7 linked regions of the Homo sapiens genome follow. The protein of the gene in region 4 purifies or fractionates together with the protein of the main gene of each other region. This does not show direct contact. Each region holds a gene or a part of one and is shown on either strand. Other genes may lie near its edges. The genes, in order: ARL8A, UST, GOSR1, SLC49A4, BPNT2, ARHGAP8 and ABCA3.

Region 1 (3,500 bases), on a different chromosome or scaffold from region 4:
GTCCCCCTGCTGAGGAGCTGGGAAAAGACAGTAGAAGACTTCTAAGGTAGACGGAGAGCGGGTGGAGACGGGGGAGAACTGGAGAGGAAGCCGGGGAGGCAGAGGAGAGTAGGGCAGGGTAGGAGGGGGCATTTGAGACCCAAGACACGTTTTGGTGGCCTGCCCACTACTGAGGCTATCTCACCCTCTTCTTGCTCAGCTCTGGGACATTGGGGGACAGCCGCGTTTCCGCAGCATGTGGGAGCGCTACTGCCGAGGAGTGAGCGCCATCGTGTAAGTACACGGGAGGCATCGCCAGACTCCAGCCTTACCCGGCCCCCCTAGCCCTGCTACCTTCGAGGACCTCAGAGGCGCAGGGTTTTATTAGACATAATCCTTGGTTCATGACACAGTGTCGGTCCAGGGCCTGCGTTTATTTTGCATGCCACTTGTTTCTTATTGGATAAATGCCCTGGGCACTCACTACCCAATCTAAGAAACAGACTATAGACTATTAACCAGCCAGATGCACCTGTGCATCCTCTTCATTGACTTGTCTCCCTCCCCTCAACCCAAAGTCACCACTGTCTTGAATTTTGTGTGGTTTAAATGATTCTTTTTTTTTTTTTTGAGACGGAGTTTCGCTCTTGTTGCCCAGGCTGGCGTGCAATGGTGCGATCTCGGCTCACCACAACCTCCTGCCTCCCAGGTTCAAGCGATTCTCCCACTTCAGCATCCCAAGTAGCTGGGATTACAGGCATGCGCTACCACGCCTGGCCACTTTTGTATTTTTAGTAGAGACAGGGTTTCTCCATGTTGGTTAGGCTGGTCTTGAACTCCCGACCTCAGGTGATCTGCCTGCCTCGGCCTCCCAAATTACATGCATGAGCCACCGCGCGCAGCCCTCTCTTGCTTTTTAAAAATAATGTTTTTTTTGGCTGAGCATGGTGCCACACACCTGTAATCCCAGCTACTTGGGAGGCTGAGGCAAGAGGATTGCTTGAGCCCAGGAGTTTAGGGCCAGCCTAGGCAACATAGCAAGATCCTGTCTTTAAAAAAATAAAATAAAATAAATTTTAAACATTGAAAAATGGCAGGGCATGGGCTGGGCGCGGTGGCTCACGCCTGTAATCCCAGCACTTTGGGAGGCCGAGGTGGGCGGATCACGAGGTCAGAAGATCGAGACCATCCTGGCTAACACAGTGAAACCCTGTCTCTACCAAAAATACAAAAAAAATTAGCTGGGCGTGGTGGCAGGCGCCTGTAGTCCCAGCTACTCGCGAGGCTGAGGCAGGAGAATGGCGTGAACCCAGGAGGCGGAGCTTGCAGTGAGCCGAGATCGCATCACTGCACTCCAGCCTGGGCGACAAAGCGAGACTCTGTCTCAAAAAAAAGGAAAAGAAAAGAAAAGAAAAATGGCAGGGCACAGGGGGAGGCCAAGGCAGACGGATTACTTGAGGTCAGAAGTTCAAAACCAACCTGGGTAACATGGTGCAACCCTATCTCTACAAAAGTACAAAAATTAGCTGAGCCTGGTAGCACGCACCTGTAGTCCCAGCTACTCAGACGACTGAGGTGGGAGGATCTCTTGAGTCCAGGAAGCCGAGGCTGCAGTGAGCTGTAATTGCACCACTGCACTCCACCCTGGGTGACAGTGAGACCCTGCCTCAGAAAATAATAGGCTGGATGCGGTGGCTCATGCCTGTAATCCCAGCACTTTGGGAGCCCGAGACGAGTGGATCACAAGGTCAGGAGATTGAGCCCATCCTGGCTAACATGGTGAAACCCCATCTCTGCTAAAAATACAAAAAATTAGCCGGGCGTGGCGGCATGTGCCTGTAGTCCCAGTTACTTGGGAGGTTGAGGCAGGAGAATCGCTTGAACCTGGCAGGCGGAGGTGGCAGTGAGCTGAGATTGCACCACTGCACTCCAGCCTGGCAACAGAGCGAGACTCCATCTCAAAAATGATATTAATAATAATAATAAAATTTATTCTATATATATATGCCCAAACAATAGATTGTTTAGAATACACAATAGGTTGCTTTTTAACCTGATAACAAAAAGTATCTTGCTAAAAGAAATCTTCTAAGGTTTCCTTTGCTTTTTTCACTCTAACCTTATTTAGTCTTTCCATGAAAACATAAGTGGGTCACTTTGAGAGGGACTTACAGCTAATCTCAAAGGGCCCACGCTTTTCCACATGAGTAACGGCTTCCCCAGAGTAGCACTTGGAGGCTAATGGCAGGCCTAAGGAGTCCCTGCAGCTGTTCACTCCCATAGACTCAGAAAACATCCGCGGAGCACCTGCCTTGAGCCAGGCCAGGTAGCCCATGGATCCCGAGGTGACCAAGCTGCAACAGATGCTTTCACCTCCAAGCAGCAGCTCCTTCTCTTCCTTGCACCACCTCAGCCTGTGGTGTCAACATGCTTGTCCCCACCCTGCCTCTTTCCCCAGGTACATGGTGGATGCTGCTGACCAGGAGAAGATTGAGGCCTCTAAGAACGAGCTCCACAACCTACTGGACAAACCTCAGCTGCAGGGCATCCCGGTCAGCAGACCTGAGGGAGCGGGATGGGGAGGGAGCTCGGCTGGGAAGTCACTGGGAGCAGGTAAAAGCCAGGCATGGTAGGGGCGCAGAGAGGAAACGGGACCCAGGAGGCCAGCTCACCACCCAGACAACCTGGGCACGGCTGCCCTAGACCTCATCCTCACCCTCCCTTCTCCGTAGGTCTTAGTCCTGGGTAACAAGCGAGACCTTCCGGGAGCATTGGATGAGAAGGAGCTGATTGAGAAAATGTGAGTTGGGTGACTCTATATTACTTTCTGCTCTCCCAATTCCCCAACCACCAGACCAACAGCCTAGGCTTGCTGCTGTTCTTAGTATTAGCCACACGGTGGCAGCAGAGCCGACCTTTTCAGGCACCTCACCCTCCCCTTTGTAGCCTCTTAGGTAAGAAAAAGGCCCCGCTGTCCCCTAGCCCCAGGCCCCCTGGACGTTCGTAGCCTCAGCGGACTCTACTCTGGTTTCCCCCAGGAATCTGTCTGCCATCCAGGACCGAGAGATCTGCTGCTACTCCATCTCTTGCAAAGAAAAGGACAACATTGGTGCGTAGGATGGGGGAAAGGGAGGAGAGGGGAGAGGCATTTCTGAGTGTTTTAGTGGCTCTCAGGTTCTCGCTCCACAACTTTCCCTGAAGTCCAAAGCCCTGTGGCTCTTGGGTAGAAAAGGCAGCCAGGTGGCCCAGATTCTGGGCACTATCCCAGCTTGTCGCCAAGCGGTTGTGTGATCTCGGGCAAATCGATCCCCGCTCTGGGCTTCACCTCCTCGTTTCTAAGATTCCAGGGCTGGACCCGGTGATTCTCAGGTCCCTGCTGGCTCTGACATGCTGTGGCTCTGTCTCTTTCCCAGCACCTGAATTCCGCTACTACTCATTCAGGGCCATGTGGCGCTTGCCAGCTCTGGACTTCTTGTTTGTTTTTGAGAAAGTGTCTCGCTCTGTCACCCAGGCTGGAGTTC
Region 2 (3,500 bases), on a different chromosome or scaffold from region 4:
CCTGGAGACAGAGCGAGACTTTGTCTCAATAAATAAATAATAAATAAGTAAATAAAAAAATAAATAAATAAATTTCCATCCATGTCCATTTTCTTTGGACATAATCTCCAGCTTTGAAACATTCAGAACCTCACAAACAGAGGGAATCTCATTCTTAATTTACCAATTGCGTATTTCCATTTTATCTTGGGGGAAAGTAGAACTGTTTTAAGACAGTAACATAGCCAACCATACTTGTTCTAAAGCCACTATGTTTTGTGTCTTTTATAATACAGAGATCAAATTGCCCACTCCTTTGCAAACTTCCATTAAAAAATCACTCAGTATCAAGTTTAAATAGCCATTACCAGCACGAATAGTTAAAGAATCATTACCAATCAGCAAAAAATATTTTAAGGTTATACCTTGTAGGTTCCATATTAGGGTCTCCAAAGAAAAGAATGATCTTTGGTGGCATTTAAGGATATTGCATTTTATGTATAAGATTGTACATACAGTAGGGGCAGGTTCTCTTTGATTACCTTACTTGATTGAAGAGCTAATGTGATTAGGCTGGTGATGCCTTTTTAACTGCCTGAAAGAAAGGAATTATAAATAAATACATTATTGCAATTTTATTATAATTATTAAATTTGGTGTTCTTTTGAATCTAACTCTTATGGCCTGCTTATCTATGGGATTACACTTAAATATAATATCATCATACTCAGTTCCCAGATGCCTCATAAAACACAGTTGCTAGATTTTAGTTCCCACTGCAGGAGAGACAACAAACTACCTGCAGAGAGCAGGACAAAAGTAACTCAAGGATTAGACATTGGGATGTTCAGGAATTGTTAGAAGAAAGAACACAAAGTACAGTATTTAAATGTGCCTTGGGATTTTATAGAGATCAACCTAGTTTGTTTCCTATGAGGAGCAAACATGAAAAAGTAAAATACACTTGTAACTATGAATGGAATAATTTAGAATAAAAATTAACAGCAATTTACTAACCATGTATAGATTGTTAGATCCAGAAAGGGTTAAAGACAAAGTCTTCCTTCTCTTCTAAAATATAGGCTAGCTCTCATCTGTTTGGAATGGTTGGCTTGTCTGGAAGCCAGAGAAGAGACTAGACAGTCTTTTAAGATTCTTTCCAGCCCTGTGATTCTGTGATATATTTGTACAACTTCTAGCATAATCTGTGTATTGTGTAGTTGAAACATTTCTGATTCCTGTGGTCAAAGTGACCTAGAATATATTTCATAACTTCATTATTCCAGATTTCTATTAAATTGTAAGGCAGTTTTAAAAACGCATGGCAAAGGTAAAGATAAGGTAGAAAAAACAAATATATAATTTTAATGTGAAAACAAACATAATAACAGTAACTATTACCTCTCCGCAGCCATCTGGCTCTGGCATGCAGAGAGAGAAGCCAGGAAATAAAAGGACAAGAAACCCAGTTTGAAGTTCAACAACATTTAGAGAAACACTTTTTTTGTCCTTGTATTGCTTTTATTAAAGTTTCAACGTGCATAAACAGAAAAAATATTATTTTAATATATATTCAAGAAATAATTTGTGGTATGAATAGCTCCTTTTTTGGTAATTTATTAGAGGAATGAAGGGGGAAATGGTTTAGAAGACTAGTGGAAATTGTAGTCAGTTGTTCTCACCTATAAATGGTAGAATTCTGAAAATTTGTTCCCATAGAATCATTGTCCTCTAGAGTTAATAACAATTCCACTTCAGGTGCAGTATGACTTAAACAGGCTCTTGTGGGCTGGCCTGGGACTTTATCCACCGTGTAGAGAATTTCTTTTATGAGAAAATGTGCTCCAAGTTTCAAACTACTGACTTACAAATGAACTTTGGAATATTATCCATTTCTAAGACCAGATTATCTATTCCATTTCATTCATACAAAAAGGCACCTCTCTGGGCCACAGTCAAATTCACACATGCATTGCTCTCTGGAGGGTAGTTGTGATCATACACACACACACACACACACACACACACACACACACACAGAGCTAAATTTTTTAAATCTATTAAATGGAACAAGACACTGAAGGGATTATTAAAAAGGAAAGGGAGTGTGAAGACACCAAATGTTAGAATGCCTATAAAAATCCCACTACATCTGTCCTTATAAAAATAGAAATACCTTTGAAGTTCATATTTTGGGAAATATCACCTCAACAGCAGAGCATGGGCAATGGCTGCTGGGCAAGTGTTGGACTTTCGCACAGCTCATCATGCAAACCTGTGATGACATCATTGCATTTATGCCCTAAAACTAGATTTCAGGTCTTAAGCTGGCTTAAATTATCTCTTGAAAAATGGAGATTATATACAGCTTTGAAAAATAGGGAATTTTTTTCCCCAGAAGACATGGCATGTGATTGCCAAAAAAACACATAACCATCTTTGGTTAAGAGGTGACACCATCTTTCTGAGCATTGCTCTAAATACAAGAAAGGTCAGAGTGCTGCAGGTGTATTACAACTATGAGAATCCATAATTACTTTCATTCTCTTTAAAGAAAAGCAAAAGTTACCAGCATATTGAGAAGGCACATAATTTTACTATTTCTATTTCTGTTGAAACTGAGGATTACGTGTTGGATACAGCACCTACAACCTGCATTGTTTTTCTTCATTGTTTCATTGAACTTTTTGGACCTAAAAATATACTACTGAGTGGGTATGATTCCCTGTTTTATGGGTGAGACACCTAAGACAATCAGATTGTAACTTTCCAAATACATTGTAATGACTATCAGTGGCTCTTGGCCTTGAACCTAGGCCTTCCTTAATCCAAAAGCCATTCTCATCATGCAGTGTTTATCTCCTCTAGCTGGATAGCAGAATCTCAGCAGAGCCTTTTAAAACCTAGAGTTGCAGTGGCCCTTCTCCTGGAGATTCTGGGGTAGAGCCCAGAAAACTTTTTCTTTAATGAAGTGTCACAAGAGATTTTATGATGCAGCCAGGGTTAAGAAGCTCTGTCGAAATCATCATACCAGCATTGCCCTAGGTATGTTCCTGAGAATCCTAGTCCTCTAAGACATTGAAAGAAAAAAAATATTATGGTTCAATAAATTTGGTAAATGTTGCGTGCCTTGTCCCGAATGAATCAATTCACGATGATTATTCGCATTTTGAAGACTTCGAAAATTAAAAACAAAACTGCAAACAAACTGTTTGACTGGATTTCACCTAGCGTTTTTGCAGTCTTCATTGTTCAGGGGAGTCTTAATGAGTGTTTGTGACTCATTTGCATTCTGCAGAACTCCAGTTCATTGTCTGTGAAATACTAGGCAAGTCCACATCCTCCCACCAGTTGTAACAGTAAAGGCTACTATATCACTATAAACGTAACATCTGTTCTGACCCTCCAACAGCTATTCAAATTATTAAAACCTTGAAGAGTTATATAAAGGGTGGAGGAGAGAGAGATCCTATGCCCATGTGCCCTAGATAGCTTTAGCTTCCTTATCAAAACACTATTTC
Region 3 (3,500 bases), on a different chromosome or scaffold from region 4:
CTCCAGCCTGGGTGACGGAGCAGGACCCTGTCCCCCAACCCCCAACCCCCCCCAAAAAAAGGATATTAACTCAAGAGATCTTTTAAACAGGACATCAAGGTAGTCACAGGGAAGAGATTGTGTTCGACCAAAAGTGACTTTCTCTTTTCTCTTTAATCTTTTCTTTTTTTTGAGACAGGGTCTCGCTCCATTATTCAGGCTAGAGTGCAGTGGCTCCATCACAGCTCGCTGTAGCCCCCCCCTCCTGGGCTCAATTGATCCTCTCACCTCAGCCTCCCGAGTAGCTGGGACTACAGGCACACATGTCTAGCTAATTTTTTATTTTGGTAGAGTTGGGATTTCACCACATTGCCCAGGATGGTCTTGAACTTTTGGGCTCAAGTGATCCTCCCACCTCGGTCTTCCAAATTCGGTGCTGGGATTACAGACGTGAGCCACCACACCCAGCTGTTTTAGCCACGTTTAATGAGTCTGTGACCTTTGTCAGCCATCATGGAAACCCAGCATAATGTTGCATGCATGCCTAGTTGGTTCTCAAGTAGAATTTTGGAACATAATCTCTTCATAAATTAAGGGCTGGTTGTGTATTCACATTTTATGATATTTTATATTTCTTTTCTATTTTTATAATTATAATTCCCTTTCAACAGTTTTTCCTGATTAAAGATATTTTAGTAGCTGGCTTCTTTTTAAACTCTTTTTAAACTTTTTAAAGTTTTTAAACTTTAAATTTTAAGAAGCTTTTGTAATATGTGATTTGTCTGTTTATGCCTTATTTTGTTTGTTATTTTGAAGCAAACATAGGAAGTGGCTTACTGCCTTGTATAAAAAGATATCAGAGAACAGTGGAGTCATTTGGAAAAAGCGCAGTGGTAAAGTGGCTTCGGAAGTGATTTTTTCCCCTTATTTTCTGGCACAGTGCTTTCTAAGATGATGTTGCTCACTGTAGTTTTCTTTCACTTTTAAAGGCATGATGGTTCCAGGCAGGATAATCTTAAATGGTGATTTGTCATCTTTTTTTCCCCTTGCAGCATTGCTATGGCAACAAAAGAAAATATGACTTCACAGAGAGGAATGTTGAAGTCAATTCACAGCAAAATGAACACTTTGGCCAGTATCCTTTTTGAATGTTCGCAGTCTGTGTTTTGAGGGTAGAGGGGAGAAGTGTCTGTGTGTGCTTTTATAGGGGGCAGGTTGCCATCATCAGTAGCAGTAGAGCCCATCAGTAATTGCATAATATGAATATACTGTGCATTCCTACTTTGTGAAAGTTTATGCTCTTTAGTACCATTCCTAAAAGACTGCACCTCAGAAGTTTCTTACTACTAGATGTAGAAGAAAAAAATTATAAATGTGAATTTAAAAATTATCCACCAATTTCTTCTACATTTTAGAAAGCTTTTAAATTCATGTTAGAACTCCACACTATACATTATTCTTACCTAAACATGATAAATTATATGCCTTTGTTGTTTTTCCCATTTAGAGATAAGTCAGTGGCAGATGCTTGGAAGGGGGAAGGAAGGAGACAGCCACCCGTGCAGATGAGCTATAGCTACTGATGGAGTTTGTAACTCTATGCACAGGCTGAATTCTAGGATACATTCTCCACTTGTTTGTTGTAACCTCTACTTTAAAATGTTTCAGTTTTCTGTTTTAAATTAGGATTATTAATACTTCCCAGAAACCCACTAGGGAACCAGAAAAGCCTGGCACTCTGAGTCATTTCATTCAGCGAACCTCTGAAAAGACAAGCCTTCTAGGCAAAAAGCTTTCCTCCCCAACTGCCAAAGGGGGAGGAACCTAGAATTTTCAAAAGCTGAGTATCTTGTAGTCCTAGATAATTTGAGTTCACTTTTAGTTTGATATGTCTTTGCCTAAGGAAAAGACTCTCCTGATGTGTGCTGTTATTCTCCAGTCCACTGTGAATTTTGTTCTTGCCTTGTCACCCTAAGTATAAAACCACATGTCTAAAATCACATTTTAGATAGGGCTATAAAATTTACAGAGTGCTGTTATATACATTATCTCATTTTACTAAACTATGAACTCAATTGCCAGCCAGAAAAGCTGATCAGTGAATTTAAGAGTTTGTATTTAGTGAAACTTTTGAAACTTTGAAATAGAAGTGTGAGTCAGATAGCTGATGATTTAAAACACTAAAGCCTTTCTCAATTGTTCATTAGAATTTACCACCACTCTTCTTTGTGACCTCTTCTCTACTGCTCTGTAAGCATCTCTCCCATAAGTTCTCTCTCTCTTTTTTTTTTTTTTTTTTTTTTTTTTTTTAAGACAGAGTCTCACCCTGTTACCATCCAGGCTGGAGTACAGTGGCACGATCTCAGCTCACTGCAACCTCCAGCCTCTCAGGTTCATGCAGTCCTCCCGCCTCAGCCTTCTGAGTAGCTGGGACTACAGACACGTGCCACCATGCCCGGCTAATTTTTGTATGTTTTGTAGAGATGGGGTTTCACCATGTTGCCCAGGCGAGTCTCAAACTCCTAGGCTCAAGCAGTCCTTCAGCCTTGGCCTCCCAAAGTGCTGGGATTATAGGTGTGAGCCACCCTGCCCAGCCCAACACTAAGTTCCCTTAAGGCAAAGTAGTATACTGGAACCTAGCATAGCGCCTCATACAAATAAGTCACATGGGAATTTTACAATTACTCCAAAAGAATGTGTTCAAAAAAAAAAAAAATCAAAAAAAATGGGTGTGGGTCAGGGCTAAAGTTTAGTCCACTTTCCTCCTGTATCTGCCTTCTGCTGCGAAGTAACTTTGAAAATATTAATAATTCACCAGTGTCTGATTATATAGACCTTAGAGTTGGTTCCCATGAATTGCCTGAATCTAAGGCGGGAAAAGATCAGGTATTTCTTCAAACTCTCAGGCAGAACTCCCCAGTCTCCTGAGAGAAGAGGAAAAGAGAAGGAAAATGAGGAAAGGGAGGGAAATGGGTGGTGGTGGCGATGGGAGCTGGCTATGCCTGTGCCTCCCTGCCAGAGTTCCTCCATTCCTGGCCACGCTGGCTCCCACCCTGACCTGAAGCCTGGCAGTAAGCCCTCAGTGCTTGGGAACTGTCATCGTCCTTTTCTTCTCCCTCTCTCTCTATTACTATTCTTATTTGTGTTACACACAAGACTGGGAGATGTGTATTGGTTAGGGGCCTTGAGCCGCAGCGCGTTCCCGGTTTGGGCAACTGCATCTGCTAAAGATTCCCTTGGTGTGAGTTTCTTCCCCATGCCTTTCATCACTGTTTCTAGACACCACTGATCTCTATTTTTGTGATTCCTACGACTTTTCGCCAGAGAGGCTTCTTCCAAATATGACCTTAATAAAGATTTCCCAAAGATCGTTTTCCTGCTGTAAACAGCCTGATCCAGAGGATCAACCTGAGGAAGCGGCGGGACTCGCTCATCCTAGGGGGTGTTATTGGGATCTGTACCATCCTGTTGCTGCTGTATGCGTTCCATTGATGGGACATCTTCAGGGACTCTTGACAGCC
Region 4 (3,500 bases):
GGGTTCAGAAGCAGATGTAACGATGGAAGAAAGGCACAGATAATGCAACGTGAAAAGGACTTGACCCAAGGTTGCTGGCTCTGAAGGCAGAGGACAGAGCCATAAACAAGGAATGTGGGTGACCTCTAGAAGTTGGAAAAGGCAAGGAAAAAGATTCTTCCCTAGAGTCTGTTCACATTTTGATTTTAGCCCAGTGAGACCTGTATTGAACTTCTACTCTACAGAAATGTAAGATAATAAATTTCTGTTGTTTTAAGTTGCTAAATTTGCATAACTTTTACAGCAGCAATAGAAAATAGACTCTGAATTGATGATATTAATAATGACAAGAAAAACAACAGCAACTAAAAATGTTTCAGGTCCATTAGATAAGCTAAGTAAGCTGGCTGTAATATACTTTCAACAGGTATTTCCAGTAAGTTTTGCTTTGTATTAATGATGGAATAACACTAAATGTAAAATAAACCTATAGGGGCTGGTTCAAATAACTTTACTGAAGTATACCATAGTTTTTTGCCTTGTTAATTATTATTATTATTTAACAGTGATATAATGACTATAACCAAGATAAAAATCTTTGTATTATGCTCTGATAGAAATTTTAAACAAATATAAGCATTTCCATGCTCTATGTGTTAAGGCTAAAGATTATACTTCTTTTCCATGTGAAAAATACCAATTAAAATATTTTTAGTTATTTTTTGGACTCTTTAGATAAGATGATGGTTTGATGACTGGACAAGAGAAACTTTTTTGTATATTTAACAATTACTTACAGAAAGCAAGAAGAAGTCCTACTGTCAGAGTTATGTACACTTCTGTGAATGAAAATATTTATTAAAAGTTCAAAAATAGCCTATGCTCACCTGTGGTTAAAGGTAGGTGTGTGATGCTGTTCAAACAGGTCAGGGTGAACCACGTGGATGACAGTGTAGCTCCCGAAAACAGGAGGAGAAGAATTAGTTTCAGCATACCCCTGATAAAATCTGCAAACCTAAAAACAAAAATGCTCTATTAATTCTAGTGGGATTTAAAAATACTATTTAAGCAAATGACACACTTTCACTAACAACTACTTGAGGAATTTTCCATATATTCTTTTAAAAGACAGTTTTCAGTGTTTTTTTAAAACAAATTTTCTTGTATGATGTTACTTTGTGATAATTTTTTTTCTCTTATAAAACACAAAAAACGGCATCTTTGTTCAGGATCTATAATTTATAGGATATATTCTGAGTGTTTACTTTTTTTTAGAGACAGGATCTCACCATTGCCTGGCTGGAGTGTAGTGATGTGATCACGGCTCACTGCAGCCTCACCTCCCAGGCTCAAGCAATCCTTCCACCTCAACCTGCTGAGTAGCTGGGCTAATTATTATTTTTTTGTGTGTGTACAGGGTTTCTCTATGTTGCCCAGACTGGTCTTGAACTCCTGGGCTCAAGGATCCTCCCACCTCAGCCTCTCCAAGTGCTGGTATTACAGGCATGAGCCACCATGCCCAGTTGATTCTGAGTTTTTAAGTGTCACTGTCATTTTCTTCATATTTTTCTATACTTTCCAAACATTCTATAATGAACATGTATTATCTTAGTTTTGAAAATCAGGCTAACTTGTTGACATGAACTTGCAAAGATCTCTCTCAAAATTCAAACTCACTTAGAGAACAAACACAGATGCCTACACCAGAGCCTCTGAGGTCCTATGTGACCTGCTGCCTGGCCCTGCTCTCTCTTCTTCTACTGTTCTCCAGTTGGATGGCCATGTTTCTGTTTCTCATACATGCCATGGTTGCTTACCACAGCAATATGTAGCTTCCGTACTTGTTCCGTCTGCCTGGAATGCTGGTACCACCCGGATCTTCACGTCTTACTCCTGTTTACCCCTCAGGTCATTCAGGTCTCAGTTCAACAAGGCCCTCTGGGCTCAGTGAAGAAGTCTTTCCCCATCCCACCTCCACTTTCTATTTTATTTCTTCATAGCACTTTCTCTATTGGAAACTCTTGTTTTTGCATTTATTTTTGTCTTCCCTACCAGATTGTAAACTTCTTGAGAACAAAACATACACGGCATCTGGAATAGTGAATATTATTCTTCTAAACTTGGGACTTTTATAGCATTTTAAGTTTTCATGTTTGAGTTTTCATGAAACTAAAGGGCATCTGGTAGAGACGCTTATCATTAGCTATGCCAAAAAAATTTTCCACTTGCCAGCTGCTTTTCCTCACCTGTGGATTAACTGTTGATTGTACGGGCACAATCCTCTGGCTGCACAATTTATTCTGTCCTTCAGAACTGTTCCTCTTATAGAATAGCTGATCCCATCTCAAATACAACATTTACTATATTCTCTTCACTTTTAATTTTCTAAAGTTGATTTACATTTCTATTGTAATTATGTGACTGTCCTTCTTAAAACTTTGAATACTATCTTCTGTTTTGTACTTATTTGACATGATATGGTTAATCATGTTTGTGTTTTCTAGAATAAAATGACTTCCTATGAGAGCTGATGCCATCTTTTGGTGGGAAAAATGAATGCACTTTTGCCCAGTGACTTAAATTTGTCCTCAAGCAGAAAATTCTTAGGTATGCTGAAAAAGTTTCCACAGCTTTACAAAATATTCCTCAAGAAAATCCAAAAGACTGTTTTAATCCCACGCTTACCTAACAGTTTTCAGATTTACATTTTGGTATGCTGCATAAACTTATTTGTCAGATACAGAGATGACAAGGTATAAGAGAATAAAACAGGCTTTTAGTACAAATCAGAGTTGAATTGCAAGAAAGTTTCACAGAAACTGATCATACAAGAATAAACCGACAACTGTAGTCTGCTATTTTTGGAGATCCAGTCCTTTCGAATAGGCTGATACCATTGAAGTGTATTATTAGGACGAAGAAGTATCTTTAATAGTGGTCTTTAATTACAAAAATATCACCCAAAGCACTCATGTATGTCTACAAGGTAGCACTGTCCTAGGGAATCCCAAAAAATGGTGTCAGGAAAGTAATTTTAAAATTGATTTTAGGGCTAGGAGATAACTGAAATTGACTTCAGATCCCAGAGTAAGGGTAGTATTTTTTTAGAACTTCCATTTCAACAAATTAAAAGCAGAAAAGTCCTCATTCTAAATTTTCCCTTTAATTATATCTATATCTAGTTAAAATTAAGGGGTATAGAAGGAAAATAATGACAAAGGAGCATTTGAGACATCATTTTTGATACATAATTGTTCCCCCTTTGACCAATTTGGTGCTCAGAATAGGATGTGATCAATGACTCACTATAATTGGCTTGGAGATTTAACTAGAAAAATGAGGTATGATTCTTGTCAAAATAAGACAGGTCAATGTATTTTTAGTATCAGTGATTTCCTACAAATACTATATTCCCCTTCTGCTTCTTTAGCTTTTAGTTTTCTTATATTTTCCTAACACTTCAAATAAAGTGATTTAGAAATTACAGTGTCAATTTATTCTTTCAATATCCCTGAAACACT
Region 5 (3,500 bases), on a different chromosome or scaffold from region 4:
TATTTTTTTTCCCCTCTTCCCAAAATGTTGTGTTGCTTCTTGACTTTTTGTTCTACCATGTAATTTTCAGAAATGCCTTGTCCAGTTTCCAAGGAGAAGGTTAAAAAAAACCAACAACAACAAAAAACACTGGGGATTTTGATTGGAGTTGCATTTATCTGCAAGCTCTTTTAGATTTTCTCAGTGCTCAATAATCAACTTCATATTATGGATTGGTTTTTCTTTCTAAACTTTGTACCTCCCCACTTGCTCCTCTCCCCCTCCCTTTAGCTTACTGCAATGACTAGGACCCTCTGCACATTGTTAATAGCTGTTATGATGGAGGGCAACTGGCTCTGTGTTGCAGCCTGCGAGGTCCTTCACCATCTGGCTTCCATTACTCTCTGACCTCAGCTCCTTAGCCTTTCTCCTTGGCTCACTCTGCTGTAGCCTTGCTGGCCTCCTTGCTGCCCTCTGAACACACCAGGCACATTCCCACCTTAGGATCTTTTCATTTGTTATTTATTGGGCTAGAATGCACTTCTAGATGCCTGCCAGGCTTATTTTCTTTAGATCTCTTCAGTCAAATACCACCTTTTCAGTGAGGGGCTTCTCTAGCTACATTACTTTTTTTTCAAAACAACTTCATTGCAGCATAGTTTTTATATCTTACAATTTGTCTATTTCAAGTATACAATTCAGTAATTTTTAGAACTGCCAAATTGTACAACTATCATCATTAATCAGTTTTAGAACATTTTCACCACCCTAATAATACCCCTGACCCCATTAACTGTTTATTCTTGTTTTTATCCCTTATCCCAGGCAACCACTAATCGGTCTTTCTCTATAGATTTGCCTTTCCGGACATTTTACATTAATGGAATCAAACAGTATATGATCTCTTGTATGTTGATGCTTTCACAAAGCAAGGGGGTTCATCCATGATTTAGCATGATCAATACTTTATTCGTATATATGGCTGAGTAACTTTCCATTGTATGGATATACCAAATATATTTATCCATTCATCAGGGTAATGGATAAACTACTAATTGATGGAATTAGTAGTTTTCTGATTTTAGCCATTATGAATAATTGCCTAGCCACCCTTTCTTAATACTATCTACCCCTTTTTCTTAAAGAATAACCCTTCCACTACTCTCTAACAGTCCTTTCTCTACTCTCCAACAACACTCTTTCTGTCCTTTTGGTCTTTATTTTTTCCTCCTTATCACTATCCAGCATACTACATGTTTTTTCATGTGTCTCGTTGTTTATCTATACTAGAATCTAAGTTCCACAGGGCAGAAATTTTTGTCTCACATTGATCACTGTGGTATCTTTAAGACCTGTAACTGTGTCTGTCATATAGTAGGCAATCAATAAGCATTTGCTGAATTAATAAAGACATAAGTGAATAAATTGAATGTTTACTTTGCTCTGTACTGAGAAATATTTAAAGATTTACCAGGCGCGGTGGCTCATGCCTGTAATCCCAGTACTTTGGGAGGCCGAGGCGGGCAGATCATGAAGTCAGGAGATCGAGACCATCCTGGCCAACACGGTGAAATCTCGTCTCTACTAAAAATACAAAAATTAGCTGGGTGTGGTGGTGGGTGCCTGTAGTGCCAGCTACTCGGAGGCTGAGGCAGGAGAATCACTCGAACCCGGAAAGTGGAAGTTGCAGTGAGCCGAGATTACACCACTGCACTCCAACCTGGTGACAGAGCGAGACTCCGTCTCAAAAAAAAAAAAAAAAGAGATATTTAATGATTTAAGCGGTTTGATGTTTCTAGAATATTAGTATTTTTAACCTCTCCTGTGATAATTTGGGGTGTTTCAGGGTACCTTCTGGAGATTGGTGATAGTTATATTTTTTAAAATCATGTCTGTGTCTCTGCAACTTTCTGAAGACTATAGGTGAGAGATGTTGTATTGACAATACTCATGTATTGTCAGTGCTGTAATCGCTTTGGCACTGTAGCGTGGGGTCTAGGCATGGCATCACATGTAGCATAAACATGACCTACTCTGGAAAGGGAGCTTGTCAGAAAGCACAGGACCCAACAGCCTGTCCTGCTGAGAGTGTAAGTCCCTAACTAAAATCAAAATTTTGGGGACATTTTTTCTTGTGTGTGTGTATGATGATGTGATAGAAGTCTCATGGTGAGGCAGTATTCATATAAGATTGATGATCTGTTATTAACTTAATTCTTAAAGAACACTCAATTCTTAGATTTAGTCAATTGGTATATGCCAGTTTACAAAAGTAAATGCAGTTCTAAAACATTTTTTTATTATTATTTATTTTTTGTTTTTTTTGAGATGGAGTCTTGCTCTGTCGCCAGGCTGGAGTGCAGTGGCGTGATCTTGGCTCACTGCAACCTCCACCTCCAGGGTTCAAGTGATTCTCCTGCCTCAGCCTCCCGAGTGGTTGGAACTACAGGCACGCACCACCATGCCTGGCTAATTTTTGTATTTTTAGTAGAGATGGGGTTTTACCATGTCGGCCAGGATGGCCTTGATCTCTTGACCTCGTGATCCAGCCGCCTCGGCCTCCCGAAGTGCTGGGATTACAGGCGTGAGCCACCACACTTGGCCAAAACATTATTTTTAAAACACTGTTTTACAAATTAGACTAATTTTAGGATGCATTAAGAAGCACACTGTTGAAAACAGTGTTTTTTACATAGGATGGGACAGGGGCGCACTTGACAATGTCCGGAGACATTTTTGTTTGTCACACCTGAGGGTGTTGTTGCTGGCATCTGGTGCGTTCTAGTGGCATTCAGCCAGGGATGCTGTTAAACATCCTACAATGCACAGGACAGCCCCACAACAAGGAATTATACAGTCCAAATTGTCAGTCGTGCCAAATTGAGCAATCTCAATTTAAAGGAATCTGTAATGTGTTTGTAAATGAATAGAATACTTACATAAAGTATTATACAAACACATGTATATATATGTTATATGTAGAAATAATATATAATATATATTATACAGAGAGAATATATATGTGTAAGGGGGGTTTGTGTGTGTGTGTGTGTGTGTGTGTGTGTGTGTATATGTATGTATGTAAGGGTGTGGGGTAAGGAGAGAATATATTCCTTAAGGAGAGAATATATTCCTCTATTCTCGTAACAACCCTTCCTCTACTTATATTTCTCTCCTTACCCCACATCCTTACATATCTGTATGGTAAGTTAAATTTATTTTATCTTTTAATTTTGTTCCTTAGTTAAAAAAAAAAAGGTAGAAAATTTGACTGTACCTCCCTATTCTATGATACGTCTTTCTTCTAACTCTAGTTGCTTGTGTTGTGTTCCAGAATATTGTCTATTTTCACACTTTAGAGCTATTATCTTTCATAAAGCATTGTTAAGGTTTAAGTAGCTTGTTTCTTCAATGCTCAGTTTCTCTATATTTCTCTATATCCGAATTATCTGTCTTGATTAGTCAACAAACCAGGCTTGAATATTAGATTGGGAAGCATTTAAAGACCTGATGTCATGGAT
Region 6 (3,500 bases), on a different chromosome or scaffold from region 4:
GGTGGATGGTGGGGTGACCCTGGAGTGTGGGTGGAACCAGGCCACGCTGGGCCTTGGATCCCGGGGTCTGTCCCAAGCCCTCTGCTTGTTCTTTTATTCAACAGACCTCCCAAGTCCCTGCTCGTGTCCCCAGCCCCGGGTTGGCTGAGTGCAGAGACTCAGACGTGAGTCAGACATGGCCCTGCTGTCAGGGCACACACAGTGATGGGTCAAGAAGAGCATACAGGTACATGGTGCAGACTGATGAGGGCTGTGATGGACCTGGGGGCTGCCAGAGCCCACAGGAAGCCCCTCTCCCAATCTGGGGTAGGCAGGGCACCTGGAGCATCAGGACGCTTTTGGCTGTAATTAACAGAAAACACAACTCTGAACCGGCCCAAAGTCAAGGGGGGTGCATTAGCCCATGTAGCTGCAAAGGTCTGGGGATAGTATGGAGATCAGGTGTGGCTTGATCAGGGGTTAGCTATTCCCTTCATTCTCTGTGGGCTGCTGGGTCTGCAGAGGGGCGGCAAGTTGGCTGCAGCCCTCCGGGTCTCATCTGCATACCCAGCTGCGCAGAGACTCTCACAGTGGTTCTGTCTTGAGAAACAGGATCTTCTGTCTCAGAAGTATCCTGGAGCCTCAGGGGCCTGAAGGGAGATGGTCAGGGAGATTGTCAGGGAGATTGCCTCGTGCTGATTAGCTCTGGCTTGGGTTTCTGAATTAACCTTTGAAAAGGGAGATATGATTACTCTTAGCCTAACTGGGCGGGCCCTGGGAGGCGGGACAGCCTCACCTCTTGCAGCTGGAGGGTGTGCAGGTGAGAGTTGCGCACCCGAATGATCACCTGGGTGCCCTTGCGCAGGGCAGCAGAGATGCTTGGTGTTCCCTAAAGGCTGTGTGAGGAGCCCTGAGTCTTGACCCACAGGAGAGGGGGTGACCCCAGCAGCCCTTTAGAGACCCCCTTGCCCTTTCAGGGTGCTGAAGGTTTCCTGCGGTTTGTGGGCAGGCCTCTGACAAGGTCCTGATGCAGGTCACAGTCAGCTTGTTTGGACTTCGCTGCCGCCACCTTCGGGGGTCTCATGTATCTGCTACCTGGACAAATGGCCTTGCGCATGCCGTCTTGCCAGCGTTGGGGACCCAGTGGTGGTTGTGATGAAGACTGGGTAGTGAGGGTCTGTATTAACGAATTCATGCATAGCTGAGACAAAAGAGTGGAAGTTACTTTTTATGGGATGCCACTGGGGGACCCTGGAATCCCAGCTCAGTAGTGACCCCCATTCAGCCATGAGCAAGATCTCCTGCCCCCATCATTCCTGGACTTTCCCAGGAGTCGCTGGCCAGTGTCTGCCTCAGGTATGACTGTGTGCAAGCTTCTTTGTCTCTGGGTCTTGGAAGCTTAGGCCTGGGTGGCATCAAACTCATTGCCTCCTTCTCCCAAGAGCCCTTTATCAGAACACCCAGTTCCAAAACGAGAGCCTGCATTGTGCAAATACCACAGCGAGCTCTTCCTCTGTATGCCCTGCACATCGGACTTGCCACTCAAATTAAGTTTGGTGCTAATTTGCCCGAGGTAAGTAGGTGTTAATTTGTAGCTACAGCATTAAGATAATTGCTGTGAGGGTCTATTTGTGTAATGTGCAAATATATTTTTACAGCAACAAACCATTTTGCTATGAATTATAAATAGAACAGTTGGGTGATTTGAATTTTCCTTTGCATAACATCCACTCTGCCAGCATGCCTGTTCGGGTCCATGTCTAATGAGGGGCTGCAGCTGGCCCAGCCCCACAGATGCTGATGGTGCCTCTGTGTCCTTGTCCCCGACCCTGGGGGGGATCCGAGAGAAAGGGCTTGTCAGGGAGGGTCGGGAGGGAGTTGAGGCATGTGCGGACTCACATGCAGGGCGAGGCAGGCTTTGGGGGATGGAGCTTCTGCTCTGAAGCCCACTGGCCAGGAGAAAGGGCCCACTTGTAATGTCTGGTTTATTTTCACTTCATTTTGATGATTACGAAGGACCTGCATGTACCAGGCCCTGTACTAGGCACCACGGATACTGTTTGAGCAAATCCAGGCATGGGCTTGGTCCTCGTGAAACTTTGATCTGCTAAGGGAGGCCCATGTTAACATTAGCAAAAGGATCACGGAAATAAGTGCCATCAGCCCTCCGTATTGGTGGCCTCTGTATTCGTGGGCTCTGCATCCGTGGCCTCTGTAACCGTGGACTCTGTATCCATGGGCTCCATATTATGGGTTCCTCATCTGTGGATTCAACCAACCGCGGATTTAGTGTATTGGGAAAAGAAAATAAATGGTTGTGTGTACTGAATTTATACAGACTTTTCTCCTTATTCCCTAAACAACACAATGTAAGAACTATTTACAGGCATTTACATTGTGTTAAGTGTTACAGGTAATCTAGAGATGATTTAAAGCATACAGAAGGATATGCATAAGTTATATGCAAATACTACACCATATTTCAGCAGGGGCTTGAGCATCTGTGGATTTTGGTATCTGCCAGGAGTCCTGGAATGAATTCCCCAAGGGACGTCTGTAAACTTGCACCTGGTTGAGAGCTATGAGTAATGGATACAGGGAGCTAAGAGTATATGGAGAGGGGCCTGCCATGCTCCTGTTTGGAAAGAGAGAATATGTTAGTCAATTTTTACGCTGCTGATAAAGACACACCCGAGACTGGGTAATTTATAAAGGAAAGAGGTTTAATTGACTTACAGTTCCATGTGGCTGGGGAGGCTTCACAATCATGGTGGAAGTGAAGGAAGAGCAAAGGAACATCTTACATGGTGGCCAGCAAAGACAGAGTGAGAACCAAGCAAAAGGGGTTTCCCCTTATAAAACCATCAGATCTCATGAGACTTATTCACTACCATGAGAACAGTGTGGGGGAACCCCCCCCAACTCATAATTCAGTTACCTCCCACCAGGTCCCTCCCATAATGTGAGAATTATGGGAGCTACAATTCAAGATGAGATTTGGGTGGGAACACAGCCAAACCATATCAGAGAATTGTCTTAACAGAGATCAGAAGGACAGACAGGAGCTGACCTGCAGGTGGGGGCTGTGGTATAATGAATCTTAGCTGAGCACAGTGGTTTGTGCCTGTGATCCCAGTGAGCCGGAAGGCTGAGATGGGAGGATCACTTGAGGCCAGGAGTTTGAGACCAGTTTGGGCAATATAGTGAGACCCAGTCTCTACAAAATACATGAAAAAGCCAGGTACAGTGGTGTGCACCTGTAGTCTCAGCTACTCGGGAGGCTGAGGTGGGAGGATCGCTTGAGCCCAGGAGTTCAAGGCTGTAGTGAGCTATGATCATACCACTGTACTCCAACCTGGGCAACAGCATGAGACCCCATCTCTAAAACAAAAAAAAATCTTTGTTAGGTCTTTGTCCCTGGTTCCTGGCAGAGCTCCTAAAACCCTTGGAAGAGCATCTTTTGTTACTCATTATGAACTCTCTCTCTCTCTTTTTTTTTTTTTTTTTTGAGATGGAGTCTC
Region 7 (3,174 bases), on a different chromosome or scaffold from region 4:
TGTGGGCCGCTGCTGGGACACGGGCCTCCACTGGGACATGGGAGCCAATGCTAACTCTCAGCCTTATTCCCCCACCTGGCACCCTCCTGCCTCTAGTGGTGGTAACAAGCGGAAGCTGAGCACCGGCATCGCCCTGATCGGAGAGCCTGCTGTCATCTTCCTGGACGAGCCGTCCACTGGCATGGACCCCGTGGCCCGGCGCCTGCTTTGGGACACCGTGGCACGAGCCCGAGAGTCTGGCAAGGCCATCATCATCACCTCCCACAGGTAGAGCCTGGGTCTGTGGGTTACTGGAAGTTTCAGCACCGGGTGGGCCATGGAGGAGCCAGGTGGCCAGGAGACCCATCAGCATCTGGTGCAGAGTCTGCCCGTGAGCCACACTGAGCATGGGTATCAGGAACAGCCTGATCGGAGAGCCAATGCCTTCCTGTCTGCACAAGCCTTTGGCACCCCAAGCCCTATCTGAGGTCCCGCCCTCTCCACAGCATGGAGGAGTGTGAGGCCCTGTGCACCCGGCTGGCCATCATGGTGCAGGGGCAGTTCAAGTGCCTGGGCAGCCCCCAGCACCTCAAGAGCAAGTTCGGCAGCGGCTACTCCCTGCGGGCCAAGGTGCAGAGTGAAGGGCAACAGGAGGCGCTGGAGGAGTTCAAGGCCTTCGTGGACCTGACCTTTCCAGGTGTGTGCCGGCCCCGGCAGCCCCCACTGGGTGGGCCCTGGGCCCCTACCTAGGCCTCTCCCATCTGCTGTGCGGAGCGTCTGTGCCTCGCCCCGCCAAGTCCCATCTCCCCAATCCCTGGGACGAGGACTCCAGTGCTGAGCACCCAGGCACCCTCCCCGATCCTCCAGCCCGGCGCTCACAGCAACACCGTCTCTCCTTTGTGCAGGCAGCGTCCTGGAAGATGAGCACCAAGGCATGGTCCATTACCACCTGCCGGGCCGTGACCTCAGCTGGGCGAAGGTGAGGCAGTCCCTGGGGCCCCACTGGGCACTCATGGGGCAGGGGGAGGTCCCTCCAGGGGTCTCTCCCTCTGTGGTGACTGCAGGCTCTTTCCACAGAGGAGTCACTTTCCATTTCTCCCCTAACACTCAGCCTGATACGTGCTGGTTTGGGGGTTTTATATCCAAAATTATCAGTGGTAAAAGGAATTCAGTGTAAAACAGGAAAGGGGTCAGGGATGGTGGCTCACACCATAATCCCAGCACTTTGGGAGGCCGAGGAGGGAGGATTGCTTAAGCCTGGGAGTTCTAGACCAGCCTGGGCAACATAGACCCCGTCTCTACAAAAAATTTAAAAATTAGCCAGGTATCATGCATACCTGTAGTCCCAGCCACTCGGGAGGCTAAGGTGGGAGGATCGCTTGAGCCTGGGAGTTCGAGACTGCAGTGAGCTATGATTGTGCCACTGCACTCCAGCCTGGGCTACAGAGCAAGACTCTCTCTAAAAAAATATGGGGGAAAAAAAGAACTGGCTCAGAAAGGGAACATCACTGGCTCAAGGTTGTAATCTGAGCTGGGAACAGCACAGGGAGGAGGCTGGGCCCCATCCCCGCTGGCTCCTGCTTAGCCAGCGTCCTCTACCTGGGAGCACGGTGCCGTCGCAGGGCTGACCTCTCTGGGGCTCTGGGGTGGCGCTGGGCAGGGGTAGGATTGTGGGGGCCTCATCAGCCCCTATTGCCAGAGGACTCCCAGGTCCCGCAGAGGAGCCTGGGCCCTGTTCTCTCCTACCAGTGACTTTTCTGCTCCCCAAAGGTTTTCGGTATTCTGGAGAAAGCCAAGGAAAAGTACGGCGTGGACGACTACTCCGTGAGCCAGATCTCGCTGGAACAGGTCTTCCTGAGCTTCGCCCACCTGCAGCCGCCCACCGCAGAGGAGGGGCGATGAGGGGTGGCGGCTGTCTCGCCATCAGGCAGGGACAGGACGGGCAAGCAGGGCCCATCTTACATCCTCTCTCTCCAAGTTTATCTCATCCTTTATTTTTAATCACTTTTTTCTATGATGGATATGAAAAATTCAAGGCAGTATGCACAGAATGGACGAGTGCAGCCCAGCCCTCATGCCCAGGATCAGCATGCGCATCTCCATGTCTGCATACTCTGGAGTTCACTTTCCCAGAGCTGGGGCAGGCCGGGCAGTCTGCGGGCAAGCTCCGGGGTCTCTGGGTGGAGAGCTGACCCAGGAAGGGCTGCAGCTGAGCTGGGGGTTGAATTTCTCCAGGCACTCCCTGGAGAGAGGACCCAGTGACTTGTCCAAGTTTACACACGACACTAATCTCCCCTGGGGAGGAAGCGGGAAGCCAGCCAGGTTGAACTGTAGCGAGGCCCCCAGGCCGCCAGGAATGGACCATGCAGATCACTGTCAGTGGAGGGAAGCTGCTGACTGTGATTAGGTGCTGGGGTCTTAGCGTCCAGCGCAGCCCGGGGGCATCCTGGAGGCTCTGCTCCTTAGGGCATGGTAGTCACCGCGAAGCCGGGCACCGTCCCACAGCATCTCCTAGAAGCAGCCGGCACAGGAGGGAAGGTGGCCAGGCTCGAAGCAGTCTCTGTTTCCAGCACTGCACCCTCAGGAAGTCGCCCGCCCCAGGACACGCAGGGACCACCCTAAGGGCTGGGTGGCTGTCTCAAGGACACATTGAATACGTTGTGACCATCCAGAAAATAAATGCTGAGGGGACACAGTCACAGTCTGTGGGTCACACGCGCGAGCGGTCACAGGGCTCAATCACTCGCCCACAATCTAGACATGAGGCTCTCCTTTCACATTTCAATCACACAAACGTGGGACGTTGCTTTTCCCAGAAGGGAGCACACGCAGAGAATACACTGAGGTGAAGGAACAGGCCCATAACACAAAGGAAAAAGCCGGCTAGATCAACGCCCGGTGACAGGCTCTTAGTCTAAAGACAAGAGCAGGTGGGGCTGTGTGGGAAGCACAGGTCTGGTGGGAGAGAAGCTGCTGGCATCAGGGTCACCCGTGGGCATTTGCCATTTCCCAGAAATAACTCCTCATCAGCTCCCTTTTTAGTTATTTATGGAGTCTTGCTTTGTTGCCCAGGCTGGAGTGCAGTGGCGCAATCTTGGCTCACTGCAACTTCTGCCTCCCGGGTTCAAGCCATTCTCCTGCCTCTGCCTCCCGAGTAGCTGGGACAACAGGCACGCGCCACCACACCCAGCTAAT

Evidence for each region.
Region 1: the proteins of SLC49A4 (region 4) and ARL8A purify together in Homo sapiens (affinity purification with mass spectrometry; one large-scale study listed by BioGRID and IntAct). This does not show direct contact.
Region 2: the proteins of SLC49A4 (region 4) and UST purify together in Homo sapiens (affinity purification with mass spectrometry; one large-scale study listed by BioGRID and IntAct). This does not show direct contact.
Region 3: the proteins of SLC49A4 (region 4) and GOSR1 purify together in Homo sapiens (affinity purification with mass spectrometry; one large-scale study listed by BioGRID and IntAct). This does not show direct contact.
Region 5: the proteins of SLC49A4 (region 4) and BPNT2 purify together in Homo sapiens (affinity purification with mass spectrometry; one large-scale study listed by BioGRID and IntAct). This does not show direct contact.
Region 6: the proteins of SLC49A4 (region 4) and ARHGAP8 purify together in Homo sapiens (affinity purification with mass spectrometry; one large-scale study listed by BioGRID and IntAct). This does not show direct contact.
Region 7: the proteins of SLC49A4 (region 4) and ABCA3 purify together in Homo sapiens (affinity purification with mass spectrometry; one large-scale study listed by BioGRID and IntAct). This does not show direct contact.

The regions. Positions count from the first base shown.
Region 1 is NC_000001.11:202,134,738-202,138,237, reverse strand, and holds part of ARL8A (ADP-ribosylation factor-like protein 8A), read left to right. Parts: intron 1-199; coding exon 200-273; intron 274-2,437; coding exon 2,438-2,531; intron 2,532-2,711; coding exon 2,712-2,779; intron 2,780-3,017; coding exon 3,018-3,088; intron 3,089-3,500. UniProt on the Homo sapiens protein: Plays a role in lysosome motility. In neurons, mediates the anterograde axonal long-range transport of presynaptic lysosome-related vesicles required for presynaptic biogenesis and synaptic function. May play a role in chromosome segregation.
Region 2 is NC_000006.12:148,942,530-148,946,029, forward strand, and holds part of UST (uronyl 2-sulfotransferase), read left to right. Parts: intron 1-3,500. UniProt on the Homo sapiens protein: Sulfotransferase that catalyzes the transfer of sulfate to the position 2 of uronyl residues in glycosaminoglycan chains. Has mainly activity toward iduronyl residues in dermatan sulfate, and weaker activity toward glucuronyl residues of chondroitin sulfate.
Region 3 is NC_000017.11:30,518,908-30,522,407, forward strand, and holds part of GOSR1 (Golgi SNAP receptor complex member 1), read left to right. Parts: intron 1-1,031; coding exon 1,032-1,114; intron 1,115-3,346; coding exon 3,347-3,471; 3' UTR 3,472-3,500. UniProt on the Homo sapiens protein: Involved in transport from the ER to the Golgi apparatus as well as in intra-Golgi transport. It belongs to a super-family of proteins called t-SNAREs or soluble NSF (N-ethylmaleimide-sensitive factor) attachment protein receptor.
Region 4 is NC_000003.12:122,857,569-122,861,068, reverse strand, and holds part of SLC49A4 (solute carrier family 49 member 4), read right to left. Parts: intron 995-3,500; coding exon 867-994; intron 1-866.
Region 5 is NC_000008.11:56,980,368-56,983,867, reverse strand, and holds part of BPNT2 (Golgi-resident adenosine 3',5'-bisphosphate 3'-phosphatase), read left to right. Parts: intron 1-3,500. UniProt on the Homo sapiens protein: Exhibits 3'-nucleotidase activity toward adenosine 3',5'-bisphosphate (PAP), namely hydrolyzes adenosine 3',5'-bisphosphate into adenosine 5'-monophosphate (AMP) and a phosphate.
Region 6 is NC_000022.11:44,759,075-44,762,574, forward strand, and holds part of ARHGAP8 (rho GTPase-activating protein 8), read left to right. Parts: intron 1-3,500.
Region 7 is NC_000016.10:2,275,381-2,278,554, reverse strand, and holds the end of ABCA3 (phospholipid-transporting ATPase ABCA3), read left to right. Parts: intron 1-96; coding exon 97-267; intron 268-485; coding exon 486-676; intron 677-884; coding exon 885-958; intron 959-1,749; coding exon 1,750-1,881; 3' UTR 1,882-2,674; downstream 2,675-3,174. UniProt on the Homo sapiens protein: Catalyzes the ATP-dependent transport of phospholipids such as phosphatidylcholine and phosphoglycerol from the cytoplasm into the lumen side of lamellar bodies, in turn participates in the lamellar bodies biogenesis and homeostasis of pulmonary surfactant.